Homo sapiens: one gene and its partners. The protein of the gene in region 1 interacts with the protein of each later gene in a pairwise test. Each region holds a gene or a part of one and is shown in the gene's direction. Other genes may lie near its edges. The genes, in order: ZDHHC22, CREB3L1, BMP2K, TMEM14B and GPX8.

Region 1 (4,240 bases):
ACTCACAAGGCTACCAGCTGCTCACGGCCACCATGTGGCATATACTGTTCTTTCACTTACATGTCAGATCCTTTTAGAATGTGAAAAGGTTTCCTGGCCTCTTTTTTATTTTGATGTATGCTGATAAATTACAGAGGAAACAGTGTGTGGTTATTCAAGAATAGAGGCTGAGCTGATCAGCATATGGCCCTCATTTCAAGGGATTGCTCTTGTTTTAATCAGCCAGTTGAGAAAGCAATAAATGTTTATTTATTAAGTATGCCATCACCGAGAGGAGAGGAACAGGGCAGGTAGGTGAGCTGCGACACCCAGGAAATTGAGGATGGTGATGGCACCAATATTCCTGCAGTGTTTGATGTTTTTAAGGCTCTGCTCCCCCCACCCCCCACTGTTTGATACACATTGGTGTCACTACCCTCTTGGCGCATCACAGTACCCACCTTAGAATAGCGGAGCCCTGGAAGGGGAAGGAAATAGAAATAAGAAGGTGGGGGTGAGGCTCAAAGAAGAAGCTCCAAGTTCAAGCTCTGTGTCTGGATAAACTCCCATTGTCTTTCCTTCTCTCAAATCAGAGCTGCCCGTGGGTCCCAGGGTGATGCTGGGCTGTGTAGAGGCTGAGTGCAGGAGCATTAATGCTAGAACCAGGTTCAAGTCCAGGCTCTGTCACTTAATGGCTGTATGACCTTAGACATGAGACTTAGCTTCTCTGAGCTTCAACCTCCTCATCTCCAGAATGGGGCTCAGCCAGCTTCACAGATCAGGCTGAGAGGATTAAGGAAGCATCTTATGCTAAAGGCTTAGCACAATGCCTGCTACCTAGTAGGGGCCCGATAAGTAGTGTCTAATTATGATCTAATCAAGCAGTGCTTGCCCTGGGCAGGCCCTGTTTAAGGGTTTTACATAGATTGTCATTTAACCCTCATATCTCTATTTCACAGATGAGGAAACTGGAATCTAAGATCACACTGGAATTTACAGACGAAGAAACTGGAATCTGAGATCTCACAGTAGTGAATGGTGAATATTCAAACCCAGGTAGACAGGCTCCAGAGTCCCAACTCCCAACCCTCTGTACACAGCCCTTCCGAGGAGATGACGCTGATCTTCATGGGTGTTGCCCTGGCAAGCTGACCTCTCAAGCCCCCAGGGTTCCTTCAGTCCGAGTGGAGAGCAGGGAAGGTCGTGGGACCTAGCCGAGAGGGAAGGGCAGGATGATGGCTGGAGAATCCACATCAGGGCTGAATCCCAATCTCCCAGCTGGAACGGGCGCTGAAACCAGGCAGGGCGCCCCAGCCCGCTCAAGGGGAATCGAGAGGGGAGGAGGGGGCAAGTCCACGATGCTGAGACTGGCGGCCAGAGCACCGCCCCCAGGAGCGGAGGGAGGGGTGGCGGGGCTGGGGGGTGCCCAGCTGCCATCCCCGCCGCTTCCTGGCCCTTACTCGCTGGCGCCCAAGTGGGAAGCCAGCAGCTGCCCGCTCCCTCCTCCCCACATCCCCGCTACTTGCCCAGTTCCCGAAGCGAAGCGCAGGCTGCGAGCCAGCCGGGCCGAGTCCACAACTTTGCAGCCTCGGGCAGGGCGAGAGCCGGCGTCCGGGGCTCCTCTTGTCGGCGACCAGAGCTCGGTGAGTTGATTTCCTCACCCCTCTGCGACGGCGGCAGTGCGGCGGCGGCGGCGCGGGGGGCGGCTTCCCGTGCGTCCGGGAGGCAGTGGCCGAGAAGCCCGCGGCTGCCGGCGCTGCCGGTCTTTCCAAGGCTCCGGCTGTGCCGCCCTCTGCCGCGGGCGAGGCGGGCGCCAGGGCTGAACGGACAGCTCCCTACACCCCGGGGCCCCACGGGCGGTCTCTGCTGTCCCTTCTCCCGCGCAGGGCCAGGGCTGAGGCTGCCTGCCGAGCGCCCCTCACTCCCCTAGCCCCTGTCCTTCGCCGCCTTCCCAGCGCTGCGGCGCATCTGGCTGCTCCCGCGCCCCCCTGGCGACCGGCGCCGGGAAGGCACTTGCTTCGCCGGAGCCCCAGGCCGAGGGCTCTCTGGGGTGGGCAGCACCGCCGCAGCCCCCGGCGGCGCAGGACTGGGGGCGTGCCCAGCCCCCGGCGACCACCCTCAGGCGTGCACTGCGCTGCGCCCCAGCGGTAGGGAGAGGCCCACGCTCTCCGCGGAGGCTGCGGGTTCCCGGGGGGCGCTGGGACCTGCAAAGGGGATTCCAAGGTGACCAGTCGACCCGTGCGGACGGGACAGCCTGGACGGAGGCCCCGTGGCATCCACCCATCCTAGGTGCAACCGCCTTCCCAGAACTTTTCTCGCGCCTCCGGCTGGCCGATTCCTTAGCCCCTGGAAAAGTTCTCTCGGGCGCACGGAATCCTATTTCTCGGTGGCTTCCGAAGCTGGCCAGGAACCCCGGCTGTGAGGCGTGGGGTGGGATGGGGACGTGGTGAGGGCTGAGCACGGCGGCGGGGTCGATCCCAGGAAAGGCTGGCCAAGCATCCACTCGTGCGCCCAGGGCGGGCTTGTCGGCATGGAAAGGATTTCGGCGCCATGAGGGTTGTTTGGGTTTCTCTCAGCAGGAGGGCGGGAGGCGGGCGCGAAGGGGGGATTTTAATTTCGCCTCAAATGAAAACGCTCTTCGCAAAGAAATAGCCCGGGCAGCCAGCGTTGGAGAGATGTGCTGGCCAGGACCCGCTGACACAGGTATTCTGGTTGCGCCCCCACCTCACCCGGTGCCCGAGAGCGAGTGTGAGTGTATCGATTGTTTCAATTGATTTTTTTAAAGCTAGATAGCAGAGGCTGCGTGTCTGTACACGCAGATATATACATACACAAATACAGATACTCAAGCGCACACAGATTACACGTACAGAGTCACAGACAAGGACACACACACACACATCGTGGTCCCTCACGCACACATACCTCCAAAGAGCCTTGGGTAACCTGGTGAGGTCCCTGAGTGCTGCCCAAGATGTGTGTGTGGGTGGGGACGCAGGGACGGAGAAAGGGGAGTGTGAAGCAGGATTTCCAGCAGGTCAAGTGCCGCTGATTCTCCTGCCCCCGACCCCAAATCCTTCCCTTTCTCCTCCTAGGGAGGTCTGAACCAGAAATCCCAAACCTGGGCTTGTTTCCACATCCACAGAGGGGAGGAGTCCTATCCCCCGGTGCCCCCCACCCTCACAACTCCTAAAGACTGCAAACGAGTCCCTCCCTCCTGTGCCAGACTCTGCCGCGCCAAGGCGCCGAGCTCGCTCAAAACCCCAGGCAACACTCACCCCCAGGTGGGGCCTAGACCCGAGGCCGCTGCGGGCTCGGGTCTCTGGCCTGCCTGATCCGGGGTTAGGGAACTGGGGAGGGGAAATCCGCGGGACAGGGGGTTGGGGGCGTGGAGTCGCGTGCAGTGCCCCAGACGCGCGGCACGGAGGAGCGGGCGAGGGCGCCCCCTGGACGCCGTAGTCAGTCAGTCCTCTTCTCACCCCGGGCCCCGCAGGAATGTAATCGAGGATGCTGGCCCTGCGGCTGCTCAACGTGGTGGCCCCCGCCTACTTCTTGTGCATCTCCCTGGTGACCTTCGTGCTGCAGCTCTTCCTCTTCCTGCCCAGCATGCGCGAGGACCCCGCGGCCGCCCGGCTCTTCTCGCCCGCCCTGCTCCACGGGGCGCTCTTCCTATTCCTCTCGGCCAACGCCCTGGGCAATTACGTCCTTGTCATCCAGAACTCCCCAGACGACCTGGGGGCCTGCCAGGGGGCCTCGGCCAGGAAGACTCCATGCCCCTCACCTAGCACCCACTTCTGCCGAGTGTGCGCCAGAGTCACCCTGAGGCACGACCATCACTGTTTCTTCACCGGCAACTGCATCGGCAGCAGGAACATGCGCAACTTCGTCCTGTTCTGCCTCTACACCTCCCTGGCCTGCCTCTACTCCATGGTGGCCGGCGTGGCCTACATCTCCGCTGTCCTTTCCATCTCCTTCGCCCACCCCTTGGCCTTCCTCACGCTCCTGCCCACCTCCATCAGCCAGTTCTTCTCCGGTGAGTGGGCCTTGGCGGGCAGGTTGGGCTCTACACAAAGACCTCCCACCCCAAAGGTTGCCGGGCCCCAAACCCCAACCCCAAAAGTTGCCAGATTTAGCAAATAAAAATACAGACCGTCCCGCTAAATTAAAATTTCAGATAAACAACTCATAATTTTTTAGTATAATTATGTCCCAGATATTGTATGAGATACACTGAGAAAATTTGCTATTGGCTATCTGAAAT
Region 2 (3,525 bases), on another chromosome or scaffold:
CATAGAGACTGGATGGGCGTGATAGTGAGAATTGCTCAGCTACGAGTTGCTGTGTGAACATAGCAAGTCACTTTCCTTCTCTGGGGTCTCCATCTCCATATCCGAGGTTCTTTCCAGCTGAGATCCCATTCCAACCCTTCCCCCAACTTCTTCATTCTGCATGAGGATAGGAAAATGTTTCCAGGGTTAAGGATGGGTAGGGATGGCGTCTGTGTGCCTCTCAGTCTGGAAAATGGAGAGCAGAATATTCGCTATCCTCCTTAAAAATCCAGATACGGGCCATAAATCATGTGGAAATCATGTGTGCTCTGTTGCTCTGTGCAAAATGCAAAATGTATGCTCACCCTGAAAACAACTATGCAAGAAATACGCATGCACTTGGACAGACAGGAGAGTGAGTACACAAAGTCAAGACAAGTGTGTTTGGAGGTGGCTGGGCTGCCTTATTTTTCTTTCTATGAGGATACCTTCATGTTGCTGCAATTCTGTTTATGCGATTCTCAGAGATCCTCAGAAGGGGGCTGCCCTTCCTGTCCCATGTGGGGGCATCTCCTCCCTGCCCCTCCCGCTCTCCCATGGTTTCTGATGTGGCCACCCTTGAGCCACTGTACTCTGTGGTCCTTCAGCCCCTTGGCCAGTATGAGAGAGAGGGTCTGGGCTCCAAGAACTGGGATAAAGGACCAGAGGGAGAGCAGGTCGTTTCTCCAGATGGAAACACTAGGTCTGTGTGCTGTCCCCTCCTTCCTCTGGCTAAGGGGAAGGGATGTCTGGCTTCTCTAGAGGGAACTGGCTTGGGATCCCAGAGAAGCCCCAGCTGGGAGGGTGTGGGGAGGAGAAGGAGGAGGAAGAAAAGGTCTGTTTTCTCAGAGGGGAGCAGCAGGAAGCTGCAAGGATGTTTGCCCAGCACACCCGTTTACTCCCTGCAGCTGGGGAGGCCAGGTGTGGGAGTGACGGGGACCCAGGGACCAGCCCAGCATTGCGGGGAGGCGGTGGGGGCTAAGGCTGATCGCTACTCCCCACACGCCTAGCCTGGCTTCTCCTGAGCTAACTGGGAAGCAGAGAGGCACCCCCACCCCCAGCCTTCGGGAGATTTAGGGAGATTAGAGAAGTATGTGTGTTTGGGTGTTCCTATGTCTGTGGGTGGGCCTTTAACAGTCCTTAAAAGGGGAGATTTGTGTGTGTTTCTGTTTAAGTTCTCACCAACAGGAAAGAGGACAGAAGTGCTAAGGCACTCTGGTCTCAGAGTGCAATCTGCTAGAAAAGATCTAATGAAAAACCTACTGGAGGAGCCCAAATCTCAGGGTGCCTATTCAGAAAGGAGACCTCTGATACCTACTCTATCAAAACATTAAGTTCGTTTTGAGCAGAGGTTTGATTTGGGTTTTGCTTCCCCCAGTGTTGAGGGAACAGTTCCTTGAGTCAGGGGCTTGGTCTGTCTTGTTCACTGCTGTATCCCAGTGCCTAACAACCGTTGATGAATGAATAAATCGATGGATGGATGAATGAATGGATGGATGGATGAAGAAAAAGGGGCCCAAACCAGACCCCACATTCTTAGAGAAGAGGGAAAAGTGTCCTTAAGCCCATCTATTTGCAGCCATCGAGGTCCTGCAGACCCTGCACTGTCTCTGGGGTCCAGGAAGGGCTCTCCATGGTTTTTAATGAGTTCTCATTACCTTGAGCCATCCCCCTACTGCACAGGCCTCTGCAGCCCCTGGTCTAGAATAGTCTACAGCTGGCTGACCCACAGGGGATTTGAACTTGTGGCTCAGGTGTCACTCTTGAGCACTGTCTCTAGGGCTTCCGTTTTCCCCAGTTTCTTCTTCAGATTGCTCTAGGACTCCTGGATCCATACTCACCCAATTTAAGACTAAGCCTTTTCCAGCCCTGCCTCAGAGCCCTTGCACATGCTGTTCCTGTCATCTGGACTGCTTTTCCCCCAGTCTGTCCATCTCAGCCTTCTGATCCCAGCTCAAATATTGCCTCCTTAGGGAACGCTCCCTGACTACCTAAAGTGGGACCCCCCTGTTCTTTTCTGTTTTAGTCTTTTGATATCTTCTAGCCCTTAACCCAGTTTGCAATTATTTTAATGGCCTATTGTCTATTTCCTCCACGAGAAAGTAAGTTCCATAAGAGGAGAGTCCATATCAGTTTTGTGCATTGACATAAACCTAGCACAGTCACATGGGACAAAATAGATGCTCAATGTAGTAAAATTCTACAATAATGCAATAAATATGCCCAGTCAAAAATTTCCAATTATGTTCCTTTGCGGTGACTCATGCTTGTAATCTCAATGCTTTGGGAGACCAAGGTAGGAGGATTGCTTGAGCCCAGGAGTTCAAGACCAGTCTGGGCAACATAGGGAGACCTCGTCTCTACAAAAAATAAAAAAAAAATGAGCCGGGCATGGTGGCATATGCCTGTGGTCCCAGCCACTTAGGAGGCTGAGGAGGGAGGATCACTTGGGCTGGGGAGGTTGGGACTGCAGTGAGCCATAATGGCATCACTGCACTCCAGCCTGGGCAACAAAGCCAGACCCTGTCTCTAAAAGTAATAATAATAATACAAATTTAAAAATAAATTTTCCAATTACATAAAATGTGGAGTAATATTTTTGTAGAATTAACGAAAAACAGTATTTTTCAGATGGTCTGTACTATCACAAAAAGCAGGAAAGTAAAAATTGTGACACCTTACTGCACAAAGCAGACCAAACAGAAAGAGTACCACAGGAGCATGAGGCAGTCACTTTTTTTTACCAGCCCCATAGAGAATGGAGTTTTGCTCACTTTTATTTGAGAAGGGGCCTGAGCATAGAACAGAAGTCAAGTTTGGGTCACATTGTAGTGAACTTTGCTCTATTTCAAGGACTTACTATATTTGTAGAGAAAATTACTTTAGACTGGGGCAATCCTTGTAAGGGAAGGGAAAAATTGTTTTAAAAAAATCCCAGGCTGGATGTGGTGGCTCACACCTGTAATTCCAGTACTTTGGGAGGCGGAGGCAGGGGGATCACTTGAGGCCAAGAGTTTGAGACCAGCCTGGGCAACACAGAAAGACTCCGTCTCTACAAAAAATAAAAAATAAATTATCCAGGCATGGTGGCACATACCTGAAGTCCTGGCTGCTTAGGAGACTGATGTGGGATGATCACTTGAGCCCAGGAGTTCAAGGCTGCAGTGAGCTATTATCACGCCACTGCACTCCAGCCTGGGCAACAGAGCAAGACCCAAAAAATCAGATCTAAGTGTTCAAGAGGTGTACTTATGATTCCTGAAGGGATCCTGGGGTTTTCAGGATCCTGGACTGGCCATCCCTTAGGGTGGTGGGGATGCTGGGTCCCACAGAAGTGCTGTCTGTGCCCCGATATGTTGTGAGGTCCCTCCGGCTTCCCTGGACCAGCTGGGAATTCACTTGCTCATTCATTAATACACATGTCCATTCCTTCAGCAACTGGGCACTGAAGGAACATCTATGCTGGTGCCAGGGTAACCCAGATGAAGAAAACACACTTGACCCTCC
Region 3 (3,525 bases), on another chromosome or scaffold:
TGCATAATAATCACATCAGGGTAAATGGGTTTCTATCACGCCACTCATTCTTTTCTTTCTGTTAATGGTGCTGCCATCCACCAAGAGTTTTCAATCTCTATTTTTTCTACTTTGACCCACCCTGCCACCACTGTCATGTCATCTAGGCCACCAAAATCTCTAACTTGCATTACTATAATTTCCTTTTGCCTGAACTCCCCTTCTTACCTTCCCTTAGTCTTTTTTTTTTTTTTTTTTTTTTTTGAGACAGTTCGCTCTTTGGCCCAGACTGGAGTGCAGTGGTGCGATCTTGGCTCACTGCAACCTCTGTCTTCCAGTTTCAAGCGATTCTCCTGGCTCAGCTGGCACCTGCCAACATGCCTGGCTAATTTTTCTATTTTTAGTAGAGATGGGGTTTCACCATGTTGGCCAGGCTGGTCTCAAACTCCTGACCTCGTGATCCACCCGCCTTGGCCTCCCAAAGTGCTGGGATTACAGGGGTGAGCCACCGCACCCAGCCCCCTTAGTGTTTTTCTATAGAGCAGTCATTTTTTTTTATGTAAACCTAATCATGACACCTATTTTAATAATAGCTTTCCATTATACATGGAATTTTGAATTAGATGTATAATGAAATATACGCTGCTTATCATGGCCTTAGAGGACCTTCACAGTCTGGCCTTTTCCAGTCTTCCTTACCTCATGTTGTACCTGATCCTCCCTTGCTCACTATATTCCAGCCACAATAGCCTATTTTCAGCCCCTTAAATATGTCTTTATATATGCCATTGCTTTTATTGGAAGCTGCTTCCAGCTTATCCTTTGCATGGCTGGGCTCCTTCTCATTGTTCAATCCTAACTGTCGTCTCCTTAGGGAGGTCTTCACCACTGTCCAAAGTAGGTTTATGCGCCCATTTCCCTGCTGTCCTTTATTTCAGAGCACTAGTCACAATTTATGTTTACTTACAACCTCTGACTGTAAACCCCTGAAAGCAGAAACCATGTTTCTTTTACTCACCAATGTATAATCAGTGTATAGCAAAGTGCCCTATATTTCTTTCGTTGAATGAACTCAGAAAATGAAGTGACTGAATGGATTCTGAGCTAAAAACATCTCCAGATGGTTTAGATTTGTTTTTAAAGGAATCTCGCTTTTTTAATGTAATGTATAGATATTATAATTAAAGGAAGTCATATCATCTAGAGAAGGCAGATGTTTTTGGTACAGTCTCCATTTAGTATCTGGTCCTTAGCTTTGGTGAGGCCATTCATGCTAAGTCAATTCAAAAGATAGTGGTTTATAAAAAATACAATGCTGATTTAAAAAAATAGTGAAACAAATACGTAACTGAGCAGGCAGGCTGTTCATGCTTGTTGATCTCTATGGGAAAACTTTACAAGAGTTGAAATATAAGCAGGAGGTATTTGGTGAATGTGAAATCTGAGCTTTCAGAATTAGCAGAATAATGTTATTTTGGTGGTGGGGTGAAGAAAATTTGCTAGTCTACTACATTCTGTGTGCTATAAATAAAATTTGGCTGTCAGTGAGAGTACGATGAGGCAGGGTGTAGGGTCCAGATATGAATAAGTCTGTCTACATTAAGACTTAACTATCTACCTGAGGTCAAATGCATTCTCTAAGTCTAATGACGAAGAATTGACAACATTATTTTTTCCTCTAAGGGAACTCGTATGAGGGATTTGTAATGCCATGTGTAATACATATTAACATTTAGTGCAAGAGGATTCTGAAATGCATTGGAATGCTGTAATAATATTTATTTGAACTTGCAGGTTCTCCTGAAAAGAAAGCTGAACATTCATCTATAAATCAAGAAAATGGCACTGCAAACCCTATCAAGAACGGTAAAACAAGTCCAGCATCTAAAGATCAGCGGACTGGAAAGAAAACCTCAGTACAGGGTCAAGTGCAAAAGGGGAATGATGAATCTGAAAGTGATTTTGAATCAGATCCCCCTTCTCCTAAGAGCAGTGAAGAGGAAGAGCAAGATGATGAAGAAGTTCTTCAGGGGGAACAAGGAGATTTTAATGATGATGATACTGAACCAGAAAATCTGGGTCATAGGCCTCTCCTCATGGATTCTGAAGATGAGGAAGAAGAGGAGAAACATAGCTCTGATTCTGATTATGAGCAGGCTAAAGCAAAGTACAGTGACATGAGCTCTGTCTACAGAGACAGATCTGGCAGTGGACCAACCCAAGATCTTAATACAATACTCCTCACCTCAGCCCAATTATCCTCTGATGTTGCAGTGGAGACTCCCAAACAGGAGTTTGATGTATTTGGCGCTGTCCCCTTCTTTGCAGTGCGTGCTCAACAGCCCCAGCAAGAAAAGAATGAAAAGAACCTCCCTCAACACAGGTTTCCTGCTGCAGGACTGGAGCAGGAGGAATTTGATGTATTCACAAAGGCGCCTTTTAGCAAGAAGGTGAATGTACAAGAATGCCATGCAGTGGGGCCTGAGGCACATACTATCCCTGGTTATCCCAAAAGTGTAGATGTATTTGGCTCCACTCCATTTCAGCCCTTCCTCACATCAACAAGTAAAAGTGAAAGCAATGAGGACCTTTTTGGGCTTGTGCCCTTTGATGAAATAACGGGGAGCCAGCAGCAAAAAGTCAAACAGCGCAGCTTACAGAAACTGTCCTCTCGCCAAAGGCGCACAAAGCAGGATATGTCCAAAAGTAATGGGAAGCGGCATCATGGCACGCCAACTAGCACAAAGAAGACTTTGAAGCCTACCTATCGCACTCCAGAGAGGGCTCGCAGGCACAAAAAAGTGGGCCGCCGAGACTCTCAAAGTAGCAATGAATTTTTAACCATCTCAGACTCCAAGGAGAACATTAGTGTTGCACTGACTGATGGGAAAGATAGGGGGAATGTCTTACAACCTGAGGAGAGCCTGTTGGACCCCTTCGGTGCCAAGCCCTTCCATTCTCCAGACCTGTCATGGCACCCTCCACATCAGGGCCTGAGCGACATCCGTGCTGATCACAATACTGTCCTGCCAGGGCGGCCAAGACAAAATTCACTACATGGGTCATTCCATAGTGCAGATGTATTGAAAATGGATGATTTTGGTGCCGTGCCCTTTACAGAACTTGTGGTGCAAAGCATCACTCCACATCAGTCCCAACAGTCCCAACCAGTCGAATTAGACCCATTTGGTGCTGCTCCATTTCCTTCTAAACAGTAGATACTTCTGATGGATTCTCGGCATTAACTCCTGTTTCAAAAAAGTGTGAACAGTTTTATGAATTTGAAAGAAAATTTGGTAGCTCTTTATAGCATTCATTCTTAAAGATCAGTCAGAATAGGTGATTTCTAAATAAACCAAATAGAAGAATGAAGTATCTCTACAGGGTAGTAACTTGATTCCTCTTCAGGAGAAAAGGGAGCTAAATTGCAAGCTCTAACTAAGGGTTTCTGCTACTGACATCACAACACAGAAATGCAAGTGTGGTACTTCCAGTGAAAGCACATGGCACCTTTCTAGGTGTGTAGCCACTGAGAAGGGACAGTGA
Region 4 (3,363 bases), on another chromosome or scaffold:
CTAAAAACAGGGTTAGTAAAAACAAGGTTAGGCATTACAAAAGAAGGCCTAGTCATAGTTCTGTCTAAGGAGGGAAGATGGCCTTCTTTCCTTTCCTTAGATGGAAGTGCCCTGCCTATTAGAGGAGAGAAAAATGGGGTGGGAAGACCCTGACTTCTCTGAGAAGATAGCACACTCTCCTTAACGCCTTCCTGCTTGAGTCCACCTTGGCTGTGAGCTGTGTTGAGAGTTCTTTGTGCTGTCCTTTGTAGGGCAGGAGGTCTGGTGGATTCCGTTAGTGAAATAAGTGCCTGACATTACAATGCAAGCTGCGTTTGCTTCCTTCTAGGCAGCGTGCCGTCCCTGGCTGCAGGGCTGCTCTTCGGCAGTCTAGCCGGCCTGGGTGCTTACCAGCTGTATCAGGATCCAAGGAACGTTTGGGGTTTCCTAGGTATGTCTGCTTCAGCGTCTCCTTAGGGCAATCATGTATCTGGAATATTCTTTTCCAAAAGACCCTGGTTTGGTGGGATGGAGCGAGTTCTTCCCACTTAATTTACGACAGTTTCACTGCTTCTCCAAGTCCAAGTCCTCAAAGTTTTAAAATAGGAGAAGGGTGGTGGGAATTGTCCTGGTTCCTGTTTATTGTTTATGTAGATAATATGGAAAGATTTCCATACCTTGTGAATTGTGTGACTCTCAGAAAGTCATCCATCCTCTGTGGGCCTTATTTTCAGTGTTTACCCAGTAGAATTAGTATCAAACTTGTATTACCCATATTTACCCAGTAAAGTCAGCATTAAACTTGTATAAGACAAATATGTGTCAACCGTTGAGGTTTTCCGCTGAAGACCATTGGCCTCAGTATCACTAAAATATCACGTATCTGGGTTAGGTTTGCAGCTGCGTTACGTTTTTCACATTTGAAAATCACCTCTTTAGCAGTCAGCTAACTAAATATATAAGACGTAGACCATGCTTTCAAGGAGCTTTCAACTGACTTCACTGGGGAAGTAAGACATGAGCATAGAAGCAGGACTGGAAAGGTACCCTGTGAGCAGCACGGACAGTGAGGACAGTGAGTGGTGTGGAGGACATAAGAGTCCTCATCAGAGTGGTTTTCAGTACATTTCTGTGGAGCTCCACCCATGTGTCAGACACTGCTATGAGTGTGGGTTCCTTGCGGTCTCTACAAACCCCGTGTGAGAATGAGTGCCATGTGGGAGGGAGAAGCCGTGTGATCTGTACATATCAGCTGGGGTGGGGAAGGGAGGTCCGTGATGGCTAATGGGGTGTGCTGGGGAAGGAGGTGTGTCCAGGTCCCAGCTCTGCCTAACAGCTCCCTCCCTCATGCTCCAGAATGACTTGAGCCTGCATTTTCCCTTTCTCTGATCCTACTCCACTCAGCAAATGACCTCACACCTATTGTAGAGAAAAAACAGCAGCCATCAGGTGGGGACTCCTGGAGCCTTTAATCTCCAAGCCTCCCCTCGTCCTGTTTCCCTCCTTTCCAACACCAGTGTCTTCCTCTGGGCTTTGGGTGTCTTCTCCCTGACCGTCTCCAGACCTTTACACTGGCCAGGATCCTGTCTTGTATTTGTATTCCTCCTTTTAGGTGGATCCCCGCATTGATATTCAGATGTGCTTGTCTCCTTCCCCTTCATAAACTACCTTTTTTTTTTTTTTTTTTTTTTGAGACGGAGTCTCACTGTGTTGCCCAGGCTAGAGTGCAGTGGCGCGGTCTTGGCTCACTGCAACCTCCGCCTCTTGGATTCAAGTGGTTCTCCTGCCTCAGCCTTCTAGGTAGTTGGGATTACAGGTGTCTCCCACCATGTCAGGCTAACGTTTGCATTTTTAGCAGGTGCAGGGTTTTTGCCATGTTGTCTGGGCTGGTTTGGAACGCCTGACCTCAGGTGATCTGCCCACCTTGGACTCCCGAAGTGCTGGGATTACAGCCATGAGGCAGCACGCCCAGCCAAGAGGGAAAGAGGGAGGGAGTGGGAGGCCAAAAGCCTACAGCACCTGGTGTTTCCCCGAAGGTGGGGTGGTAGTCTCCCATCCAAGTACCATGCAGGACCGGACCGACCCTGCTTTGCTTCTGGGATCAGACAAGATCTAGCACATTCAGGGTGGTATGGCGGTAGACCACAAACTTCTTAAAGATCATTTATGCAGCTGGGCGCGGTGGCTCACTCGTATAATCCCAGCACTTTGGGAGACCGAGGCAGGCGGCTCACCTGAGGTCGGGAGTTGGAGACCAGTCTGACCAACTTGGAGAAAGCCCCATCTCTACTAAAAATACAAAATTAGCCGGGCTTGGTGGCTGTCACCTGTAATCCCAGCCACTCAGGAGGTTGAGGCAGGAGAATCGCTTGAACCCGGGAAGTGGAGGTCGCGGTGAGCCGAGATGACGCCACTGCACTCCAGCCTGGGCAACAAGAGCGAAACTCCGTTTCAAAAAATAAAGATCATTTATGCCTCCTCTCCCATCACACATGATCAGCCCATTTCAGTCTCTGTTTCTGTCCCTGTGTTTGTGGAATAGCTCTCCCTGAGGCTGCCAGTGACCTGTGTTTGTACAAAATCCAATGTACATTTTTCAGTCCTCATTTTACTTGGCCATTTAGCAGTTCTCAGCACGGTTGACCAATCATTTTCCATTCTCCTGGTTTCCCTTTTTATCCTCTCATTCTCTTTTGGCAACCTATTTTCCTTTTTGGCCACTAGATATTGAAGTTCTTCAGGCTCTTCTTGTCTACTCACTTGACAGTTTCATTGAAGCCTATGCCTTTAATTTCCACCGATACACAAATGACACAAATTTCTCTCTCCTCCAGGCTGGACTCTCATGTATTCATCTGTCCACTTTCCTTCAGATGTCTCCAGGAATCTGCCCGGACCTAACCTCATGGCCACACACTCCCCCTGTCTTCTGTTCTCCATCCATTCGGTTCTTGATTGCTCTCTTTCCTTTCTACCACCCCCTTTCTGACTAATTCATCAGCAGGTCTTGTCGACACTACCTCTAGCCCTTATCCTGAGTTGTCCTCTTTTTCATCTGCACAGCCATCGTCCTAGTCCCAGTTATCCCCTCTTTCTTACCTGCATTCCCAAGGACGTTCCTTAGCTGGTATCCCCATGTACCCTCTAGTTTCCCTGAAGTTTGTTCTCTATAGTATAGCTAGAATTACGCTTTCAAAATGCAACTCTGGGCCGGTTGCGGTGGCTCCTGCCTGTAGTCCTAGCACTTTGGGAGGCCAAGGCAGGCGGATTGCCGAGCTCAGGAGTTGGAGACCACCCTGGGCAACATGGTGAAACCCGGTCTCCACTAAAATTAAAAAAGGCTTCAGCATTGCTTGAACCTGGGAGGTAGAGGTTGTAGTGAGC
Region 5 (2,313 bases), on another chromosome or scaffold:
GAGTGGTATAAATAGAAAAAAAATCTACATTTCTTACATAAATTAAGATTTATCAAAAGGATATCATGGCTGGGCATGGTAGCTCATGCATGTAATCCCAGCACTTTGGGAGGCCAAGACAGGAGGATCACTTTAGTGCCCAGGAGTTCAAGCCCATCCCGGGCAACACAGCGAGACCCTGCCAAAAAAAAAGTTATTGCTTTTCAAAATAAGGTGATTATTCACTTTGGGAGGCCAAAACCCTATCTCTACTCAAAATACAAAAATTTGCCTGGTGTGGTGGCACACACCTGTAATCCCAGCAATTTGGGATTACAACTTTGCTTCATTTTTTTTGGCTTTTAATTTTATTTGACACAGAGTTTCACTCTTGTCCCCCAGGCTGGAGGGCAGTGGTGTGGTCTCAGCTCACTGCAACCTCCACCTCCCAGGTTCAAATGATTCTACTGTCTCAGCCTCCCGAGTAGCTGGGATTACAGGTGCACACCACCACACCCGGCTAATTTTTTGTATTTTTAGTAGAGATGGGGTTTCACCGTGTTGGGCAGGCTGGTCTTAAACTCCTGATCTTAGGTGATCCACCCGCCTCAGCCTCCCAAAGTGCTGGGATTACAGACTGAGCCACGGCTCCCAGCCTACTTTGCTTCATTTCTTGATACTAAGATCACATACTAGATGAGTAGACTCATAGGTGAAGTCATCAAGTATATTGAAATCTGGTTACTCTAACCTTGAGTTTCACTTCGTTTGGGTGTTTTGTTTTTTATATTATGACAGTCCTAGAACTTGATACTAAAGTTATCATTTATGCAGATACTAATAGAAGTGAAAATCTTGACAAAGAATAAAATTATGCTCATGAAAATATGTTCTGGATATTTTAGATTCTTCAAAGAAGGAACCAAGGTGGAATTTTTGGAAGTATCTTGTCAACCCTGAGGGTCAAGTTGTGAAGTTCTGGAAGCCAGAGGAGCCCATTGAAGTCATCAGGCCTGACATAGCAGCTCTGGTTAGACAAGTGATCATAAAAAAGAAAGAGGATCTATGAGAATGCCATTGCGTTTCTAATAGAACAGAGAAATGTCTCCATGAGGGTTTGGTCTCATTTTAAACATTTTTTTTTTGGAGACAGTGTCTCACTCTGTCACCCAGGCTGGAGTGCAGTAGTGCGTTCTCAGCTCATTGCAACCTCTGCCTTTTTAAACATGCTATTAAATGTGGCAATGAAGGATTTTTTTTTAATGTTATCTTGCTATTAAGTGGTAATGAATGTTCCCAGGATGAGGATGTTACCCAAAGCAAAAATCAAGAGTAGCCAAAGAATCAACATGAAATATATTAACTACTTCCTCTGACCATACTAAAGAATTCAGAATACACAGTGACCAATGTGCCTCAATATCTTATTGTTCAACTTGACATTTTCTAGGACTGTACTTGATGAAAATGCCAACACACTAGACCACTCTTTGGATTCAAGAGCACTGTGTATGACTGAAATTTCTGGAATAACTGTAAATGGTTATGTTAATGGAATAAAACACAAATGTTGAAAAATGTAAAATATATATACATAGATTCAAATCCTTATATATGTATGCTTGTTTTGTGTACAGGATTTTGTTTTTTCTTTTTAAGTACAGGTTCCTAGTGTTTTACTATAACTGTCACTATGTATGTAACTGACATATATAAATAGTCATTTATAAATGACCGTATTATAACATTTGAAAAAGTCTTCATCATTTTCAGTATTTCTCTCTGCATTATTTTTTAGAAGCAACTCAAATTCTGTAATCATAATATTACCAAGTAAGTCAGTCTTTATTTTTGCGTGAAAATCCCAAGTGTAGAAAAAAGGACATGAGTATAAGATCATTTAACTTGATTCCTTATAGGCTGATTTGGGTTGCTAATGTATTCGTACTAGATTAGCCACTTGGGAGGAATTCAATGCTGCATCATTCTGATAGCTGAAATAGTAAAAGTCAACTCCAAACAGCCTAAATTCTAGTATAAAAAGGGGGTGATCATACAAGTCCTAAAGTGTAGATCAGCAGTCACTGAACCTCTTAGAGTCACAAGGCATTTCTTCTCCCAAAGTCATGACCTTTATATTTTGTTAGCCTTATAATTGACTAACAAAGCAACCTGCCAAGTTGGTGAAGGTTAATTATTGCCTCATGAAATATACATTCATCGCATAAAAGAATTAAATAGGAAGATGGCCAAAAATGTAAAAAAGTCGTATAAATTTGTCTAAGAAGAAAAAGACCCAATTTAAGTAGTCTGTGACTTGACTCCCAAATTCTG

The links.
Region 2: the proteins of ZDHHC22 (region 1) and CREB3L1 interact in binary tests that used the Homo sapiens proteins (3 or more experiments, as listed by UniProt).
Region 3: the proteins of ZDHHC22 (region 1) and BMP2K interact in a two-hybrid assay, tested with the Homo sapiens proteins (one large-scale study listed by IntAct).
Region 4: the proteins of ZDHHC22 (region 1) and TMEM14B interact in binary tests that used the Homo sapiens proteins (3 or more experiments, as listed by UniProt).
Region 5: the proteins of ZDHHC22 (region 1) and GPX8 interact in binary tests that used the Homo sapiens proteins (3 or more experiments, as listed by UniProt).

The regions. Positions count from the first base shown.
Region 1 is NC_000014.9:77,138,985-77,143,224, reverse strand, and holds the start of ZDHHC22 (palmitoyltransferase ZDHHC22), read left to right. Parts: upstream 1-1,433; 5' UTR 1,434-1,622; intron 1,623-2,480; exon of another isoform or gene 2,481-2,682; intron 2,683-3,472; 5' UTR 3,473-3,486; coding exon 3,487-4,012; intron 4,013-4,240. UniProt on the Homo sapiens protein: Palmitoyltransferase that could catalyze the addition of palmitate onto various protein substrates and be involved in a variety of cellular processes. Catalyzes the palmitoylation of KCNMA1, regulating localization of KCNMA1 to the plasma membrane.
Region 2 is NC_000011.10:46,280,643-46,284,167, forward strand, and holds part of CREB3L1 (cyclic AMP-responsive element-binding protein 3-like protein 1), read left to right. Parts: intron 1-3,525.
Region 3 is NC_000004.12:78,908,837-78,912,361, forward strand, and holds part of BMP2K (BMP-2-inducible protein kinase), read left to right. Parts: intron 1-1,773; coding exon 1,774-3,197; 3' UTR 3,198-3,525. UniProt on the Homo sapiens protein: May be involved in osteoblast differentiation.
Region 4 is NC_000006.12:10,750,805-10,754,167, forward strand, and holds part of TMEM14B (transmembrane protein 14B), read left to right. Parts: intron 1-328; coding exon 329-430; intron 431-3,363. UniProt on the Homo sapiens protein: Primate-specific protein involved in cortical expansion and folding in the developing neocortex. May drive neural progenitor proliferation through nuclear translocation of IQGAP1, which in turn promotes G1/S cell cycle transitions.
Region 5 is NC_000005.10:55,163,171-55,165,483, forward strand, and holds part of GPX8 (probable glutathione peroxidase 8), read left to right. Parts: intron 1-884; coding exon 885-1,048; 3' UTR 1,049-2,313.